2 separate regions of the Homo sapiens genome follow, and region 1 is reported to be linked to region 2. Evidence: microRNA targets listed by miRTarBase, many of them from high-throughput screens and not tested one by one. Region 2 holds a microRNA gene; the other region holds the end of a gene's coding sequence.

Evidence for each region. Region 2 holds the annotated microRNA hsa-miR-7975 (AUCCUAGUCACGGCACCA, at 3,095-3,112, opposite strand). A microRNA usually pairs through its seed, bases 2 to 8, with sites in the 3' UTR of a target mRNA and lowers its output. Matches are read on the target gene's strand: a 7mer-m8 pairs with bases 2 to 8, a 7mer-A1 pairs with bases 2 to 7 and ends in A, and an 8mer does both.
Region 1: the mRNA of C8orf33 is a reported target of hsa-miR-7975. Seed matches in the 3' UTR shown: 7mer-A1 at 1,807-1,813.

Annotation. Positions count from the first base shown.
Region 1 is chr8:145,053,520-145,057,780 of GRCh38, forward strand. It overlaps C8orf33 (chromosome 8 open reading frame 33), which reads left to right. Exons shown (of 5, transcript NM_023080.3): 5 at 499-2,511. The coding sequence ends at 638. Among named protein-coding and RNA genes, the nearest start is that of C8orf33, 3.2 kb to the left of the region's middle. RefSeq lists an enhancer at 1-322.
Region 2 is chr19:55,120,131-55,124,391 of GRCh38, forward strand. MIR7975 (microRNA 7975) reads right to left here and starts at 3,162; the gene lies at 3,095-3,162. RefSeq lists an enhancer at 801-890.

The DNA of each region.
Region 1 (4,261 bases), not on the chromosome of region 2:
CCCAGAGCAACAAGCCTGGTGGGGGAAGGAGATGGGCTCAGGGAAGCCTGAGGGAGCAGGGAAACAGAAAGCGTGGACCTCTCTTTCCTCTTCCTAGGACTGAACCTGGGAAGCAGCGGGGAGGCCCTGGGAGGAGTGGGAAAGAGCATGGTCCTATGTTGGTCCTGCTCCTGGGTTGGGGAAAGCTGCCTCATGTCTTTGTGTCTTGGCTTTCTCTACTAGCAATGAAGCCATATCCCATAACAGTTTGAGTGCAATTCCTGGGGCCAGATCAGCTAGGTTCAAATCCTGGATCTACCACATAGTAGTACTAACACCTTTTGCAAACTACTGAACCTCTCTAAGTGGGGGATGATAGTAATATCAACCTTACAAATTTGAGGAATTAATCAGTTAATTTATGCAAGGTGGTTAGAATTGTATGGGCAAACATAACTGTACAGGTAATGTTAATTGTTATTATTCAGTTCTGACATACGCTGCTTCTCTCCCCGACAGCTGCTTATTCAGCCCAGGTGCAACCTGTAGATGGAGCCACCAGAAAGAAGAGCCAAAGGGTCTGCAGGCCTCGCTCTATATGGAGAGCCAAAGCCACTCTGGACATGCCTGATGAAGAGTTTAGGTTCAATTTCTTTTAGCGTCTCCCCGAACCTGAAACAATCCCCCTCCCTTGGGGTGGTGTAGGGGTTTGTTTTGAGTGCAGAGCCTTTCCAGGACTTCTGTTGTCAGAGAACCCTGGAGTTGGTCTGTCCCTGGCTGGTCCAAGGATTTGTAGCTGTTGTGAAGGTGTGAGACCATCAGATAGGCAAAAGACCCCGTTCGTTTTCTGATGAAATGTTCTCTCTTTCAGAAGAGAGAGAGAGGTGCATTTAGAAAATATGCAATAAATTGAAGTGAGTGTTCAAAGTATTGTAGAAGGAATATTGTACTCAGTCTTTAGGATTAGATTAAGTGGCTGTTGGTAACAAAGATTAGTGGAGAAGCTGTATAATCGTACACTGGTTTTCACTTTTGAAAGGAATCCCTGTCAAATGGTTTAGTGCTTAATGCTGTTATGTCATATTGCCCTAATCTCTATTTTTGATAAAATTGGATAAGGAGTGAAAGAGTATGCTGACCACCTATGTTAGAGGAAGTACAGAAGATGCAGGGGTGTGGTATCCCTGGGTCCAGTCCCTCACCTGGTACCTTTGTGCATGTTGCCTTCATTCCTGAGCAGGTATCATCCTCAGGGAACCAGCATGGCACCTACCAGGCCAGGCTCTGTTCTTAGGAGCAAGGAGCTTCTTGCGCTAACAGTTCTGGCCTGAGACCTGGATTGAGCCTTGGCAGACTTCTTGTCTAAATGTTGGCCATTCAGTCTCAGGCCCTCTGTTCCATGGAATTGGGAATCTCCAGGTGACCTAATCCTCATTGGTGGCTTGATGTTTGCTGGTATCTTCCAAACTCAGTTCCCAGACTAGATTGATACCTGGAGCCCAGCTGCCTACTCAGCATTTCCACTTGGGTGCTTCATAGGCATTTCAAACCTGATGTGTTTAAAACACTTGATTAGGCTCCGGTTTTCCTTTGGCTTCTGCTTTTCAGTGAATGGCATGACTGCCTATGTGGGTGGCAAGCCACCCAGGTGCCGAGGAAAGAGACTGAGGGCACGAGCTGTTCCAGTATAATAAAATATATAAAATAAGAAGAGTTATACTAGATCTAGATCATAGACATGATTATATGTGAGTATCATTAATCATTAGTTTATAGCAATTACTCTTTATTCCAATATTATAATAATCCTCACTCTACAATCATAACCTAGGAAAAACCAGGCCATACAGAGATAGGAGCCGAGGGGACATAGTGCGAAGTGGCCAGAAGACAAGAGTGTGAGCCTTCTCTTATGCCCGGACAGGGCCACCAGAGGGCTTGGTCTAGCAGTAACACCAGTGTCTGGGAAGATGCCTGTTGCAAAGTGGACCATGGTCTAGCAGTAGCATCAGTGTCAAGGAAAAACACCCACTACTTAGCAGACTGGGAAAAGGAGCCTCCCTTTCCCCGGGGGAGTTTAGAGAAGACTACTCCTCCACCTCTTGTGGAGGGCCTGACATCAGTCAGGCCCGCCCGCAGTTATCCAGAGGCCTGTCTCCCTGTGATGCTGTGCTTCAGTGGTCACGCTCCTAGTCCGCTTTCATGTTCCATCCTGTATACCTGGCTCTGCCTTTTAGATAGCAGGAGCAAATTAGTGAAAGTACTAAATGTCTGATATGCAGAAATAATGGCATAAGCTGTCTCTCTCTCTTCTCTCTCTCTCTGCCTCTGCTGCCAGGCAGGGAAGGGCCCCCTGTCCAGTGGACACATGACCCATGTGACCTTACCTATTATTGGAGATGGTTCACATTCCTTACCCTGCCCCTTTGTCTTATATCCAATAAATATCAGTGCAGCCTGGCATTTGGGGCCACTACTGGTCTCCGCGTCTTGGTGGTAGTGGTCCCCCAGGCCCAGGTGTCTTTTCTTTTATCTCTTTGTCTTGTGTCTTTATTTCTACAATCTCTCATCTCTGCACATGGGGAGAAAACCCACTGACCCTGTGGGGCTGGACCCTACATCTGGCGCTCTGATGTGGGGCTCTCCCTCGCTGTGTGAGGTTGCACTCTGAGTGCGGGATTCAGCGGAGGATTTTGACAAGAGATTCCTGAGGATTGCTGTTAGTAAGCTTGGTGGTAAGCTTGAGCACTCAGAGTATTCTGGGGACACCATGGTACAAGCCAGTACTAAGTACTCAGCTTATTTAAATTTTATAAAAACTCTTCTTAAAGAAGGAGGGGTTTAAGTTTCTACTGAAAAGTTAATTGAACTATTTGCGGTTGTAAATCTTCTTTGCCCTTGGTTTCCGACTGAGGGAACTTGAGAACTTAAAGATTGGGATGAGATCGGCCAACAATTCAAAATTGCTCATAAAGGGGGACATTTTATTCCACCCACCATTTGGTCAATCTGGGCTTCGGTTCGCTCTGTCCTAGACTCCTTACAGACTCAGGACAGCATGGAGACTGATCCCTCTTTCCTCTCCCTGAGGAGGGCGAGGAATTTCTCACTTCTCTTTCCCCTGAGGATACTGCACAAATTGAGACCATAATTTCACAGGCGGAATTCCACTCTGACATGCCTGTGCCGCCACCACGTATGCAAGAGGCTACCGCACCCCCGTTGTCGCTTTATGATGATCTTTTAACTGACCCGAATGAACTTATTTCCCCCAACCAGCAAAACTCAGCTGAAACATGCCAACAACCATTGTGGACGCACCCCCCTGCTTCTCCTCACCCTGTCAACGCTGCCACCCTGCAGACAGAGGATGAGATCAGGCAGCCTGAAAACGAGGCTATAAATTGTTTCCATGCAGCCCGGTACAGAGGCTCTGATACCTGAACAGCCCGGAGAGGAGGCTTTCAATTCTCGGCCAGGTAATGAGGCCCGCAACGATATCCCTCCACAGCCTGGTTTTCTCATGCCTGGTCTTTTCCCCCCAATCAGACTCCGGTAGAACCACAGGCTCCCTTCAGGCCTGGTTCCTTTACTCCTAATCAGACTCGCTTAGAGTCATAGGCTCCCTTGAGACCTGGTTCTTTTCCTCCTACTCAGACTCGGCAAGAGTCACAGGCTGCCTTGAAGCCTGGTTCCTTTCCTCCTAATCAGACTTGGCTAGAATCACAGGCTCCCTTGAAGCCAGGTTCTCTTTCTCCTAATCAGACGTGGGTAGAGTCACAGGCTCCCTTGAAGCCTGGCTGCTTTCCTCCTATTCAGACTCAGTTAGAGTCACATGCTCCCTTGAGGCGTGGTTCCTTTCCTACTATTCAAATTCGGTTAGAGTCACAGGCTCCCTTGAGGCCTGGTTCCTTTCCTCCTACACAGACTCGGCTAGAGCCACAGGCTCCCTTGAGTCCTGGTTCCTTTCCTCCTAGTCAGACTCAGAGTCACAGGCTCCATTAAAGTCACAGGCTCCCTTGAGGCCTGATTCCTCCTAATCAGACTCAGTTAGAGTCACATGCTCCCTTGAGGTGCTGTTCCTTTCCTCCTACTCAGACTCAGAGACACAGGTTCCCTTGAGTCCTGGTTCCTTTCCTCCTAATCAGTCTCCATTAGAGTCACAGGATCCCTTGAGGCCTGGTTCCTTTTCTCCTAATCAGACTGGGTTAGAGTCACAGGCTCCCTTGAGGCCTGGTTCCTTTCCTTCTACTCAGACTCGGTTAGAATCACAGGCTCTGTT
Region 2 (4,261 bases):
CAAGTGATTCTCCTACCTCAGCCTCCCAAGTAGCTGGGATTACAGGCGTGCTCCACGCCTGGCTAATTTTTGTATTTTTAGTAGAGACAAGGTTTCACCATGTTGGCCAGGCTGGTCTCGATCTCCTGACCTCAAGTGATCCACCCGCCTCAGCTTCCCAAAGTGCTGGGATTACAGGCATGAGCCACCACACCCAGCTGATGTTCTTTAGTAGGAATATCTGGTGGAACCCCAAGATGGGGTCTTCATCCGCCACGAAGCCTGTTTCTATAGAAAGGGATAGTTCTGGTGGCTCTTAGGTGTGGTCCCTGAACCCCACACTTTCCACATACTTACACACCAACCTCCTTCCCCCAGGAAAACAAGAAGTCGGTCTTCAGGGTGTTACCGTGTAGCTCTGGTTCTGTATGTATTCTGTGCCTTTATGTATAATTGTGTGTATTTGCAATCATGTCTGTGGCTGGATGTATGTTGTTTATGAGTTTGTGTTTATGGTTTGTTTTTGTTTGTTTGTTTGTTTGTTTTGAGATGGAGTTTCACTCTTGTCATCGCCCAGGCTGGATTGCACTGGCGCAATCAAAAAAGAGTAAAATAACAGAAATCAGAATGGGCTTATAATACTCTTACCCCTCTCCACACAGGACAGAAGAGTCAATTTTATACTTTTGTGGATGTTCTAACTTCACCTGCTTATCTGAACCATCTTTATGGTGCAGACTAATATCTATTTTTCTGCTGTTACAGAAGAAGTGGGAACATTTTCTTCTTATCTTTCTGAGGTTATTTACACCAGTGAGGAGGGCCTGCAGTTCCAAGGTTAAGCACCAACATTCCACTGTTACCATTGAGAGCAAAGAGCAGACCCTAGAAGTGAAAACAAAACCTTTACCACAGGAAGACAAGAGCAAAAGATGATGTTCTTGAGTGGCATATGAAGATGCTCACAGCCAACATCACATGCCTATCAGATATTTTATGTACATCATCTCATCAACTCCAGGAGGCAGAGACTAAGAGACTAGCCCCAGTCACAGAGCTAGAAATTGGCCAAGACAAGGTTCAATCTGAGGACTGTCAAATCCAGAACTGGAATTTCTTTTTTTTTTTTTTTTTTTTGAGATGGAGTCTCGCTCTGTCACCCAGGCTGGAGTGCAGCGGCATGATCTCAGCTCACTGCAACCTCCACCTCTTGGGTTCAAGCGATTCTCTTGGGACTACAGGTGCACGCCACCACGCCTGGCTAATTCTTGTATTTTTAGTAGAGACGGGGTTTCACCATGTTGGCCAGGATAGTCTCAAACTCCTGACCTCATGATCTGCCCGCCTTGGCCTCCCAAAGTGCTGGGATTACAGGCATGAGCCACTGCACCTGGCCTTAGAAGCCTCAGTTCCTGATGGCAGTTGGGATCTGCCTTTCCTTCCCTGGACTGCCTACCTCTTGTCTTTTAGGTTACATATGAGAAAACAAACCTCCAATTCACCAAAACTATTGTTATTTGGGGAGCTGTCTCTTACTATCAGCCAAACATAACTCCTCAATGACACTGTTAGTTTAGCACTGCCATTATAATCAGGAGGGATCTGGGTCCAGCTGCGGGAACATGAAGAGGCACTAGTGGGATGACCACAGCCAGCCCCTGTTGATTCACCAGGAGACTGCAGATGCATGAGCAAGTCCAGCCAAGATCAGCCAGACAAGAACTCCCAGCGGAGCCCAGCCCAATTTGCCAACTCTCAAACTATAATTTTTTTTTTTTTTTTTGAGACGGAGTCTCGCTCTGTCTCCCAGGCTGGAGTGCAGTGGCGCGATCTCCCCTCACTGCAAGTTCCACCTCCTGGGTTCACGCCATTCTCCTGCCTCAGCCTCCCGAGTAGCTGGGACTACAGACGCCTGCCACCACACCTGGCTAATTTTTTTGTATTTTTAGTAGAGATGGGGTTTCACTGTGTTAGCCAGGATGGTCTCAATCTCCTGACCTCATGATCCGCCCGCCTTGGCCTCCCAAAGTGCTGGGATTACAGGCATGAGCCACCGCGCCCAGCCCTCAAACCATAAGTTAAATAGATGACTGTTGACTCAAGCCACTAATATTTGGGGTAACTTTTTTCTTTTTTCTTTGCTTTTTTTTTTTGAGACCAAGTCCCACTCTGTCATCCAGGCTGGAATGCAGTGGCATGACCTCGGCTCACTGCAACCTCCACCTCTGAGGGTCAAGTGATTCTCCTGCCTCAGCCTCCTAAGTAACTGGAATTACAGGCACCAGCCACCATGCCTGGCTACTTTTTGTGTGTTTTCAGTAGAGATGGGGTTTCACTATGCTGACCAGGCTGGTCTTGAACTCCTGGCCTCAAGTGATCCACCCGCCTCAGCCTCCCAAAGTGCTGGGATTACAGGCAGGGGTGAGCCACTGCGCCCACCTGGGGTAACTTTTTATGCCACAAAAGCAAACTGATGCAAGGCATTCCAAGAGGCCTTTGAGCCTCTTGCAAGTCAAGCTGATTGCAAGACACTCTGCCTTTGATAAAATGTAGTGGACAGAGAAGCAGTGGTTTCAGTGGCAGAGATGACAAATTGTTGCCCAATATTCGTTGTCCCCTTCTTTCTCAACAAAATGGAACCTCTGATTATGCTGGGTTTAGCATAGCCATCTAGAATAATGGTTACATATCCCAGTGTCGGGCCTCCGAGCCCAAGCTAAGCCATCATATCCCCTGTGGGCCTGCACATATACATGAAGATGGCCTGAAGCAACTGAAGATCCAAAAAAGAAGCGAAAATAGTCTTACCTGATGACATTCTACCATTGTGATTTGTTCCCGCCCCACCCTAACTGATACGATATATTCTGCCTGGTCCTTAAGAAGGTACTTTGTAATATTCTCCCCCGCCTTTAAGAAGGTACTTTGTAATATTCTCCCTGCCCTTGAGAATGTACTTTGTACGCCCATCCCAAACCTATAAGAACTAATGATAATCCCACCTTTGCTGACTCTGTTTTCGGACTCAGCCCACCTGCACCCAGGTGAAATAAATAGCCTTTTTGCTCACACAAAGCCTGTTTGGTGGTCTCTTCACACGGACGTGCGTGACATTTGGTGCCGTGACTAGGATCAGGGGACCTCCCTTGGGAGATAAATCCCCTGTCCTCCTGCTCTTTGCACCGTGAGAAGGATCCACCTATGACCTCGGGTCCTCAGACCAACCAGTCCAAGGAATATTTCACCAATTTTAAATTGGGTAAGCAGTCTCTTTTTACTCTCTTCTACAACCTCTCTCACTATCCCTCAACCTCTTTCTCCTTTGAATCTTGGCGCCACCCTTCAGTCTCTCCCTTCTCTTAATTTCAGTTCCTTTCCTTTTCTGGTAGAGACAGAGGAGACGTGTTTTATACGTGAACCCAAAACCCCAGCGCTGGTCACGGACTCGGGAAGACAGTCTTCCCTTGGTGTTTAATCACTGCGGGGACGCCTGCTTGATTATTCACCCACGTTTCAGAGGTGTCTGATCACCACGGGGACGCTTGCCTTGATCCTTCACCCTTAGTGGCAAGCACCACTTTCCTGGGGGGCAAGCACCCCCCACCCCTTCTCTCCATGTCTCTACTCTCTCTTTTCTCTGGGCTTGCCTCCTTCACTATAGGCAACCTTCCACCGTCCGACCCTCCTTCTCCCTTAGCCTGTGTTCTCAAGAACTTAAAACCTCTTCAACTCACACCTGACCTAAAACCTAAACACCTTATTTTCTTCTGCAATGCTGCTTAACCCCAATACAAACTCGACAATGGTTCTAAATAGCCAGAAAACGGCAATTTTGATTTTTCCATCCTACAAGATCTAGATAATTCTTGTCGTAAAATGGGCCAAAGGTCTGAGGTACCTGATATCCAGGCATTCTTTTACACATTGGTCCCTCCCTAGTCTCTGTTCCTAATGCGACTTGTCCCAAATCCTCCTTCTTTCCCTCCTGCCTGTCCCCTCAGTCTCAACCCCAAGCGTCACTGAGTCTTTTCAATCTTCCTTTTCTACCGACCCATCTGACCTCTCCCCTCTTCCCCAGGCTGCTCCTCCTCAGGTCGCTCCCCACCAGGCTGAATCAGGCTCCAATTCTTCCTCAGCCTCCTCTCCCCCGCCCTATAATCCTTCCATCACCTCCTCTCCCCACACCCGATCCAGCTTACAGTTTTCTTCTGCAGCTAGCCCTCCCCCACCTGCCCAGCAATTTCCTCTGAAAGAGGTGGCTGGAGCCAAAGGCATAGTCAAG